Linked DNA regions of Homo sapiens. The protein of the gene in region 2 purifies or fractionates together with the protein of the main gene of each other region. This does not show direct contact. Each region holds a gene or a part of one and is shown on either strand. Other genes may lie near its edges. The genes, in order: SKIC3, TTC33 and SLC4A1AP.

Region 1 (3,656 bases), about 55 Mb from region 2:
TGAAAAGGTTTATAAAAAATTTATTTATACCATACATGTAAAGATTTCTCCAGCAACTCCTTAAGATCATTCATGTTGCTGCCTGTTTCTGCTAGATGTTGTGCTTGGCGATAATAATTAATTCCAAGGTCACACCATGTATTAGATGTAGACATCAGTTTTAATGCACGACCATAACACCTACGGGAATATAAAAGTGAATGTTTTTTGTTACAATGCCTTAATTCAATTCAAATGTTATTAACTGGCAATCTTTGCAAATTACCTTCCTCCAAGGTGGAGGAGCTCATTTTTCTTTAATACTTGTTTTCCTTCTTTCTGACCTAGAAGGACTCCTAAAACATGAACATTCACTTTAGATGGTGCGACAGCATACAGACAGGTACAAGCATCCCCAGCTAGCTTCCAGAGGCAGGACACATCAGCTCGATGCTGTAGAGCACTAAAAAAAGAAACATTGTGATTCTTACAAATTATTTATAAAAAGCATGAAGTTTATCTCCCTGATTATTACTTAAAACAGAAAAACTGTACATTAAGTACTTTACTAGTCTCCTCCTAACTGAATCATATCATATCACCTCCCTAATAGGAAGGGAAGAAGAAAAGGAGAAAGGGAAGGAGGAAGGGATTACTTTAAGTGCCAGAAATTTTGTGGACACTTTTTTTTGTTACTCTTCACCATTTTTATTAGAAGTAGCAGCAATCACGCAAATAAATAAATAAGTTTTCCAGGACCAATTTCCTTTTAATATTAAAATGTTAAAACTATGCTTTTTGTGTTTAAGCAATGACCAAGGCAGTAAAGTTTGTAACTCTCTTACAACTGACAGTTGTAAACTCAGGTTTTTGCTTTTAGATCTTCTCTCATGCTGTGTAGTTTTGACTACATCCCCACAAAGCTCATGAGTTGGGAACTCAATCTCCAGGACAACAATGTTGAGAAGTAGGACCTTTAAGAGGTGATGATGTCATGAGGGCTCTGCCTCCCTAAATGGATTAATACTGTTATTGTAGGAATGGGTTAGTTGTCACAGGAGTCAGCTCCTGATAAAAGGGTAGGTTCAGTCCCATTTTTTTTCTCTTGCATTCTGCCCTTCTGCCATAGGATGACCCTCACCAAGATGCCAGCACCATGCTCCTGGACTTATCAGCCTCCAGAACCAAGTCAAATAAACTTCTGTTCTTTGTAAATTAACCAGTCCATGGTATTCTGTTATGGCAGCAAAAAATTGATGAAGACACCTCAAATAAAATATACCAAATATATTTGGTAAGATCTGAAAGATTTTTGTAAATTTTATTTTTTAATTGGCATAACTATATATATTGATGAGGTACAGAGATGTTTTGATACATATAATGTATTGTGATCAGATCAGGGTAATTAGCATATTAATCATCTCAAACATTTATAATTTCTTTGTGTTAGGAATGTTCACTATCCTCCTTCTAGCTATTTGAAACTATATATTATTGTTAACTACAGTCATCCTACAATGCTACAGAACACTAGAACTTATTCCTCCTATCTAGCGTAATTTTGTGTCCTTTAACAAGTATTACCCATATATCCTTTCCCCCTACCCTTCCCAGCTTCTAGTATCCTCTGTTCTACTTTTTACTTCTATGAGATCAATTTTTTTTTTAGCTTCCACATATGAGTAAGCACATATGGTGGTTAACTTTCTGTTCCTGGCTTATTTCACTTAACATAATGTCCTCCAGTTCTATCCAAATTGCCTTAAATGATAGCATTTCATTCTTTTTTATGGCTGAATAGTATTCCATTGCATATAAATACCACATTTTCTTTATCCATTCATCTGTTGTTGAATATCTAGGTTGATTCCATATCTCGACTATTGTGAATAGTGCTGCAATAAACATGAGGGTACAGATGTCTCTTTGATATAATGATTTTCTTTCCTTTGGATAAGTTCCCAGTGGTGGGGTTGCTGGATCATACGGTAGTTCTATTTGCAGTTTTTTGAGAAAACTCCATACTGTTCTCCACAGTGGCTACACTAGTTTGCATTCCCATAAACCATATAAGAGTTCTCTCTTCTCCACATCCTTGCCAGCCTTTATTTTTTGTCTTTTGAATAACAGACATCCTAACTGGGGTGACATGATACCTTACTGTGGTTTTGATTTGCATTTTCCTGATGATTGGTGATGTTGAACATTAATACCCTGAGACCAAAAAAAAAAAACAAAAATCTAAACATAAAAATCTGAAGAACTACATTTACCGAAACAAGAGCAGACTGAATGAACAAGCTCAAAAAGCAAAGAGAAATATTAATTATGGTGACAGAGGGCAATTCCTTTTAGAATGAGAAAAACTTCAGCTATACATTTTTCTTCATTTTTCTCTTCTCGAGATCTTATAAATAACACATGGCAATTTCATTTAAGCCAAGTCTCAATAATCAGCTATCACAAGCTGCTATGTTACTGGCAGATGGAAAAGCAGATGGAACATTTTTCATAGCCTTTTCTACTCATGGAGTCCAGCCAAAAATAATTTTCCAATGTCTTCCTAAGAAATAATATTAATTATTGTGGTCATAACTAAAAGCCCACTGAGAATCTGAAAGAAGGGCAATATGATTTGGAGTTCCTTTGCCTAAATATCTTAGCAAAATTTCTAAAATTGACAGCAAAAAATGAGAAGAGAGGAAAAAAGTGAAACAGGCGATTTTAAGAGCCTAAATTCTTATTTTGAGTTCAATAAAAATAAAATATCTATAAATTGAAGTAACTTATATCACCCTTACACAATAATTGTGATAGTATTAACGCCTTGTAAGTCTGGAAGTAAATATACATTTGGAGATTATAATTGTTTTATATGCCACCTTCTAATGGGTTATGTTACATGTTATCCAGAATAACATTTCCTAGGCTCAGAGAGGCAGTATTTATAGCTAAGGTACTGTCACCCAAAGGTTCACATTTACTCTTAAATAGCAGTTCAAATAAAGCATGCCCTTTACACAGTAACTTTCCCTTTAGAAAGAACTACATTATGTGAGACTTGAAAAGTAGCAATAAAATTCAGTGAGATAAAAAAGGGTTAGGTTTTCATTTCATATTTGGTTCATATGAAAAGCAATTCTGGAACAACCAATAAATACAAAACAGAGGAGAAACCAAGCAGGAAAAGAGGGGAAGTAGAAGAAAGATGTTTAAGAGTTACAAAAAATTCAAATGTACATCTAACTTGTGGACTTTTGGAAGTCTTCTACCACAGATAACACTTTTTCTGACCTAACCAATGAATTCACAGTTCTATAAAATGCCAAATCTACTCAAAATTTTCTGATTCCTTTCTTGTTATTAGACACATCACTTTTTTCCTTCACAGTTTCTCCTCAGGAGCAATCAGATTGTCATTTCCCCTTACCTTCAAGACCTACTAATAATCCTACAATTGGCTCTTACCACTGAATGTACAGCATATTGAGCACCTGAAGCCCTATTTCCCAATCGGTTCCAATTAAAGATACTCATTTCCAGGCCTACTGAAAGAGAACACTAACACATGGTGTCAGAGCTGCTGTTCCACTAGCAGACTGCTCCTTCCTTCCTATTCTTTCCTATGCATCTAGGATGCCAGCCACTACTAAGAGCAGAAGAAATTATATCTG
Region 2 (3,656 bases):
TATCTCTCCTAAACCAAGTTGAGCACGTCCCAAAGTCTGCCAAGACTCCCATGAATGTGGATTTTGCTGGACGGCCATTTCTGCTGCATGTACTGCTGGGAACATTTCATGAAGAGACATTAGCACCTATAGGCAAAAAAAGACCAAAAAATCTGTCAGTAATATTCATAAACTAGCAACTACATAAAAAACCCTTTTCATTTTTTAAGATATATTTTTAGTCCAGTAAAAATAGCATTTCGGTGATTTTTACCCCTTACTCTGCCATTCAGGGTAAGAAATTATAGTTCTCTTTTCACCCCTTATATAACTATGAAAATGTAAACGATTCCCTTTCCAGTTATTGAATCTTATGTCCATCTGGTCAAAACCAAGTGGTCATATCCTAACTATGGTGGCTCAGAGGTATTTTGAACTCCCAATTCCACTTCCATTTATTCTATTTACAATGTGGTTTTCAGGGAACCCCAGGTATTGCCATTAAACTAGGTGAATTAATTTGTTCAACCAGCCATCCCGTCCCTAATGAACATCTTTATGTTATAAAAAGTATTTAAAACATTCCCTAGGCCTTCTCACTACTGGGCATTTCAAACCATACATACTAGGAAGGTAGGGTTAGGGTTAGGGTTAGGGTTAGGGAGAGTTAGGGTTACCAGAGAGTTCTAGTACCCTCCACTGTGGTCTGTGGGAAGAGGCTGGATTTTATCTATAATCTTTAGGACCATTAACACTTTAAAAGATTTGTGATACAAACATTATTATCAGGTTCCAAATTAAACAAGTCTTCATAAAGCTTGCCACAAACCTGTCATTCATATATACATATTTAAGATTGAAAAAGGAATACAAATGAAGGTCCTCATATCACTTGATTCAGATGACATAATTTATTTGGGTTTTTCCTGGATAAACTAAAGTCAAAGGTGACAAATGTGTGTCCTATATTTGAGATCACGATTTGAAAAATATTTGTTAGGTGTGCAGATTAAGGCTGAATTGCAACAATTCCCTGCCAAAAATATGTTTAATGCTCTGTGTGAGACTTTTAAAATCACTTGGATAACCTATTCAAGTGCTCAAAGGTTTTCTTTACAGACTTTCCTACAAAATATTAGAAACATGTTTTTAAAGTACAAATGTTATTTTTAAGCTATTAATAAAATTGCATCTATGCTGACCTTTTGCTAAGGACTAAGCCATTTTTAGAAATATCTCATCTAGAACCCAATCCATCCTCATTTTTAAGAAAACTGAACTATTTTGCTAAGTCTACTATATTTAATCACAAGGAAAGCGTATGTTTTTCATCTAAGAGCTCAACAGTGACTTTTTATTTATTTTTTATTTACTTATTTATTTTTTTGAGATGGAGTCTCGCTGTGTCACCCAGGCTGGAGTGCAGTGGCACTATCTCAGCTCACTGCAACCTCCGCCTCCCACGTTCAAGTGGTCCTCCTGCCTCAGCCTCTCAAGTAGCTGGGACTACAGGCATGTGCCACCACGCCCAGCTAATATTTGTATTTTTAGTAGAGGCAAGGTTTCACCATGTTGGTCAGGGTGGTCTCGAACTTCTGACCTCAAGTGATCCACCCACCTCGGCCTCCCAAATTGCTGGGATTACAGACGTGAGCCATGGCACCTGCCCACCAGTGACTTTAAAAGATAGCCACCGATTCCTATCTTACAATAGTTAGGCTAAAATAACAGTTAACTTCATTGTAAAGGCAAATGAATTTCCAGTTTTATGCATAAGACAGAACCATAAATAATGGTGAAATATTTTTTCCCAAAGAAACCGTATTTGTAAAAGAAAATGGGAGAAAATGCTATTTTGCTTCATCATTGCTCACTCACCGAACAAACATAGCACAATTTCATAAGGAAAGTGAAATTCTTCATAATTATTACCTGTGATTTCATCTCGTATAGGGTAGCATCATTTGGAGTTAACTGTAGTGCTTCATCCCACTTCTGAATTGCCTCCCGATATCTGTGGTTGTTAAAGTTATATCAATGCCATATTTTCAATATGCTTTTTTGGACTTTCAAAAAAAAATTTTTATTGTAGTAAAATATAAAATTTACCATCTTAACCATTTAAGTGTACAGTTCAGAGGCATTAAGTAGCATTAAGTACATATAGTTCATTCACCTTTGTGTGCAACCACCACCACCATTCATCTCCAGAACTTTTTCATCTTCCCAAACTGAAACTCCATACCCATTAAACAATAACTCCTCATTGCCCCCTCCTCCACCCCCGGGCAAACACCATTCTACTCTTAGACTGCTTTCAGGAGGAGCAGTCATGTACTTTCAGTTCAACAGTTTTTTGGACTACTTTCTAGTCCATGAAATATATGTAAAAATCCAAAATAAAGGATTAGCAAATTAAGTCCAGCAACTTACTAAAGTACAAAATCCACATGATCATGTAGTGTATGCTCAGAAAAACTTAGAAATGGGTTCATATGTAACAGATAAGGGAGAAAAAAGTACATGCCACTAAACAATACTTAGTATAATTTAACACCCATTTCTGATTATTTATAATAATAATAAAAGTATATACAACATTAAATAAATTTAGTACTGTGGTGCCATCATCTACTAAGCTTTAATGATATAACCTCTAAAAGCAGTAACTATATCACCTAAAAAGAAAGTACTTGCACTTCTTTAGGCATATTGTGGGTGATTTCAAGCCTCTCTAAACAATATTTCCAAATGTTATTGTAGATGTGACAGGAAAAACTTTGGAAATTAATTTATTGATGTATTCCTTCATAACAATCCTTCCACTCACAATTTTCTAACAAAGGTAGCAGTAATAAATTCTGCAAGACTTAATAGTAGCAAATGTCTTTCCTCCAGCATTAGAAGGAAAAGGTTGGACTGTTTGTCCAATCTTTTTTCTACCACTCCCTACACATACCTGTGCTCCACTCAGCAGGGTTTTTATAGTCCCTACCCACATATCATGCCTTTGTTAGTATGGATCCCCTGCTACACATACACACACACACATCTGTATTAGTTCACTCTCACGCTGCAATAAAGAACTGCCCAAGACTAGGAAATTTATAAAGGAAAGAGGTTTAATTGACTCAGTACCACAGGGCTGGGGAGGCCTCAGGAAACTTACAAGGATGGCAGAAGGGGAAGCAAACACATCCTTCTTCACATGGAGGCACGAGAGAGAAATGAGCGCTGAGCAAACAGGGAAGCCCCTTATAAATCCATAAGATCTCGTGAGAACTCAGTGTCATGAGACCAGCATGGCAGAAACTGCCGCCATAATTCAATTATCTCCACCTGGTCCCATCCTTGACACGGGGATTATTACAATTCAAGGTGAGATTTGGGTGGGGACACAGAGCCAAACCATATCACATATCTAAGATTGCCTTCCTACTCCTCTTCATCTATTCAAAGGCTCCTCCTCTAAGACCAAGTTAAAATGCTCCGTTCTTCATGAAGACCTCCTCCAGTGGCTCTAGCCCACTAACTATGAGTACCACTTCAGACCACATAGCAACACTTATATTTCCAAAGCATTTTATGTTTTACAAAGCACTTTCAATACAATTATTTAACATACAATTATTTTCCCAAAAAGTTAATTCACTTACTACTCAAAGTAAGTGAATATA
Region 3 (3,656 bases), on a different chromosome or scaffold from region 2:
TTTTTTTTTTAAAGTCTGAGTAGAGCATCATTTATTAATAAGGCTTATATTATATTTTTATTATTGCAAAGTAACTTATGTCTGGTTCAAAACTACCAAAAGGCTTATAATAAAATATACTTGTTCCTTGCCCTACCCATCCTCAGTCTTCTTCCCTAAAGGCTTTCAGTTTTTTCAGTTATTTATTCTGGCATTTAAAAACACCTGTATTTCTTGGCCGGGCGCGGTTGCTCACGCCTGTAATCCCAGCACTTTGGGAGGCCAAGGCAGGCGGATCACGAGGTCAGGAGATCGAGACCATCCTGGCTAACACGGTGAAACCCCGTCTCTACCAAAAATACAAAAAAAAAAATCAGTTGGGTGTGGTGGCAGGTGCCTGTAGTCCCGGCCACTTGGGAGGCTGAGGCAGGAGAATGGCGTGAACCCAGGAGGCAGAGTTTTCATTGAGCCGAGATCGCGCCACTGCACTGCAGCCTGGGTGACAGAGCAAGACTCCGTCTCAAAAATAAATAATTAATTAAATTTAAAAAAAAACAACAAACACCTGTATTTCTTTTCTTTTCTTTTTTTTTTTTTTTTTTTGAGATGGAGTCTCACTCTGTCACCCAGACTGGAGTGCAGTGGCATGATCTTGGCTCACTGCAACCTCTGCTTCTCGGGTTCAAGTGATTCTTCTGCCTCAGCCTCCTGAGTAGCTGGGACTATAGGTGCGTGCTCCACACCCAGCTAATTTTTGTATTTTTAGTAGAGACAGGGTTTTACCATATTGGCCAGGCTGGTGTCGAACTCCTGACCTCATGATCCGCCTGCCTTGGCCTCCCAAAGTGCTGGGATTACAGGCGTGAGCCACTGCGCCCAGCCTAAAAACACCTGTATTTCTAAGAACAAGAGTATGGTGTTATATTTTTAGTCACTTATTTTAGACGTTACCTGTCGACTCTGCTAAATTAGTATTTAGTATTTACGTGATTATGCTTATGCAAATATTAGTTATAACTGAGCAGTTTTATTTCTTTTTGTTTTTCCTAAGGGTAATAATTGCGTTTGCTTTTCATGTGTTTGGGGCTTTTTTGTATTTCTTGCTCATTCCTCCCACACCTTTCAGTAGCCTCACCACATCAAACAACTTAATGATTAAGTAATTTATCAGTTCTGATTTGTTTTGGAGACACTTTTTCTGAAGAGCACTATTTTTCTTTCAGGGCTTATTGCTCTGCAGATCTGCTACAGAACTGTCACCTGGGACTTAACTTTCCTATCATCCTTAAGATTTCTTTGTCCTTTCTCCAGGGTTGACTTTTCTGTTTCTTGATTCTCATATTCTCATATTTCTTGGTTTATTTCCTTGCACAGTAGTACATCCTTCTGTACTTTTAGCAGATTAAAAAGCTGGTACAACACTAGAGGGCATGGGTGATGATAGTCTTCAATGAATTTCACATCTTTCCTTTTCTTGGTCTACTCTCTTGTTTTGGTGGACATCCTCTAGTAGATTTCAGAGAAAGAGTGTATAGGAAATAAATTTTATTAATCCTTCTCTTCTGAAAATATAATTATTGTAGCTTCACTCCTGATTAATAGTTTGGCTGGGAATACAATTCTAAGTTGGAAACAATTTTTCTTATTTTACATTCAGTGTTGCTTTTGAGAAATCCTAAACTGTTCAGATTTTGATCCTATTGTATGTCATCTTTTTTTTCCGCCTTGCCAGAGCTTGTAAGAGTTTCCCTTTGTTCTAAAGGTTCTAAAACTATGAAGTACTTTTCTGTGGGTCTATTTTTCTTCATTTTTCTGGGTACTTGTTGGATCCTTTTGATCTAGAAACCTTGGCTGTTCAGGAAGTTTTCTGCAATTATGTCATTAATTGTTTCGTCCCTCTGTTTTCTATGGAATTTTATTATTCAGACATTGGACCTCTTGGACAGACCATTTAAGTTTTTTTTCTTCTTTTTTTCATCTGTATGTCTTTTCCTTCTTGAGAGATTTCTGCACCTTTATCTTTCTGTCTTCTCTATTTTGCCATCAAGGTTTTAATTTCTTTCTCTTTTTTTAAAGTTTTTAAAATCAGGCAGTCTTTCATGCCAGAGAAGGCTCAGAGACTCCAAGGTTTTAATTTCTAAAAGTTCATTTTTGGTTTTTGAATTGTCCTTTTTAAAACATAATATCCTCTTGTTTCATGGGTTGTAAATATCTCCTCTCTGTTTTCTCCATGTTATTTTTCTTTTTATGTGGTCTCTGTTCTGCATGTTAAAGGCTTTTCTTAGGTGTCATGTAATTCTTCATTGTAGTTTTTTTATTTGGGGATGAAAAAGGTGATTGACAGTTTGGAATATATAGGTGGGGTTTCTGCATGGAATATATAGGTGGGGTTTGTTGACTTTGAGCAGTACTATTGAATGATGTGGGTGGGCCTTTTGTTGGGGAACCCTTGATTTAAGTATCCTTTTGGTTTTCCTCGTCTGTGAGCGAGATTCCCCAGAGAGTGCTCTTCCAATCTCCTGCCTGAAACGAAAGGACTGGCTGCCAGCATTCCTAGAGCTAAGTGGTAGAAGGTGGCTGAGTGGCTTCTCATTCAGCTGTTTTCAGGACAGTACTATTTTTAGATTATAGTGCCCATGCCTTCAACTTTACTAGTCAACTCGTAATCCAAAGGCTTTCTGTTTTACCCTTTCCAGAGATTAACCTCTGGATTTCTACTGCAGATGGAAAGGAGATGAGTAGGCAGGGAGGAAGATCTATTTCTCAACCAGTTTTTACTTAGTCCTCCATAACCTTAGTATCCATCCCCAGTTGCAGATCCGTTTGAGGATTCTGCAGTGTAATCACTTTGGCTCTCAGCTTTCCCCACTGTTTAGGATTTATCTTTTTAAATTCTGCTAAGTTAGTTTCTACTCATCTGTCTACTTTCTAATTTTCTAAAATTTGGGTCTTTATGAATTTCTTTCTCTCTCTCTCTCTCTCTCTCTTTCTTTTCTTTCTTTCTTTCTTTTTCTTTTCCTCCTTTCCCTCCCTTCTCTTTTTTCCTTTCCTTTCCCTTACTTTCCCTCCCTCCCTCCCTCCCTCCCTCCCTCCCTCCCTCCCTCCCTTCCTTCCTTCCTTCCTTCTTTCCTTCCTCCCTTCCTTCCTTCTCTTTCCTCTATGCTGCCCAGATTGGAGTGCAGTGGTCTGATCACAGCTCACTGCAGCATCAACTTCCGGGGCTCAAGCGATCCTCCCGCCTCAGCCTCCTAAGTAGCTGGGACTACAGGTGCACACCACCATGCCCAGCTACTTTTTTTAGATTTATTTTTAGTAAAGGCAAGGTCTTGCTATGTTGCCCAGGCGTGGGTACATCTCTTTACTATGGTTTATTGGGATTTAGGGAAAGAGGGAAATTAGATATGTGTGTTTAATGTACCATCTTAACCTGCAAATTAGGCTTATATTAATAAGGACTATTTTCCTTGCAAATAATAGAAGTCCAATTCAAACTAGCTTAGGGGAAAGGTCATTGGCTGCAGAAGCTGGGAAGAATAGCTCAGGATGAAGGAACAGGAGTGAAGGAACAACTGCATGAACCAGAACCTCAAGTTCTGAAACCATAACTTAGTACTACCAAAGTAGACTCAGCATCACCAGGACATATACAAGTTGTGTGTGTGTGTGTGTGTGTGTGT

The links.
Region 1: the proteins of TTC33 (region 2) and SKIC3 purify together in Homo sapiens (affinity purification with mass spectrometry, with the first as the bait; one large-scale study listed by BioGRID). This does not show direct contact.
Region 3: the proteins of TTC33 (region 2) and SLC4A1AP purify together in Homo sapiens (affinity purification with mass spectrometry, with the first as the bait; one large-scale study listed by BioGRID). This does not show direct contact.

What each region holds. Positions count from the first base shown.
Region 1 is NC_000005.10:95,516,881-95,520,536, forward strand, and holds part of SKIC3 (superkiller complex protein 3), read right to left. Parts: intron 443-3,656; coding exon 266-442; intron 181-265; coding exon 36-180; intron 1-35. UniProt on the Homo sapiens protein: Component of the SKI complex, a multiprotein complex that assists the RNA-degrading exosome during the mRNA decay and quality-control pathways.
Region 2 is NC_000005.10:40,728,351-40,732,006, forward strand, and holds part of TTC33 (tetratricopeptide repeat protein 33), read right to left. Parts: intron 1,994-3,656; coding exon 1,912-1,993; intron 127-1,911; coding exon 1-126.
Region 3 is NC_000002.12:27,670,360-27,674,015, forward strand, and holds part of SLC4A1AP (kanadaptin), read left to right. Parts: intron 1-3,656.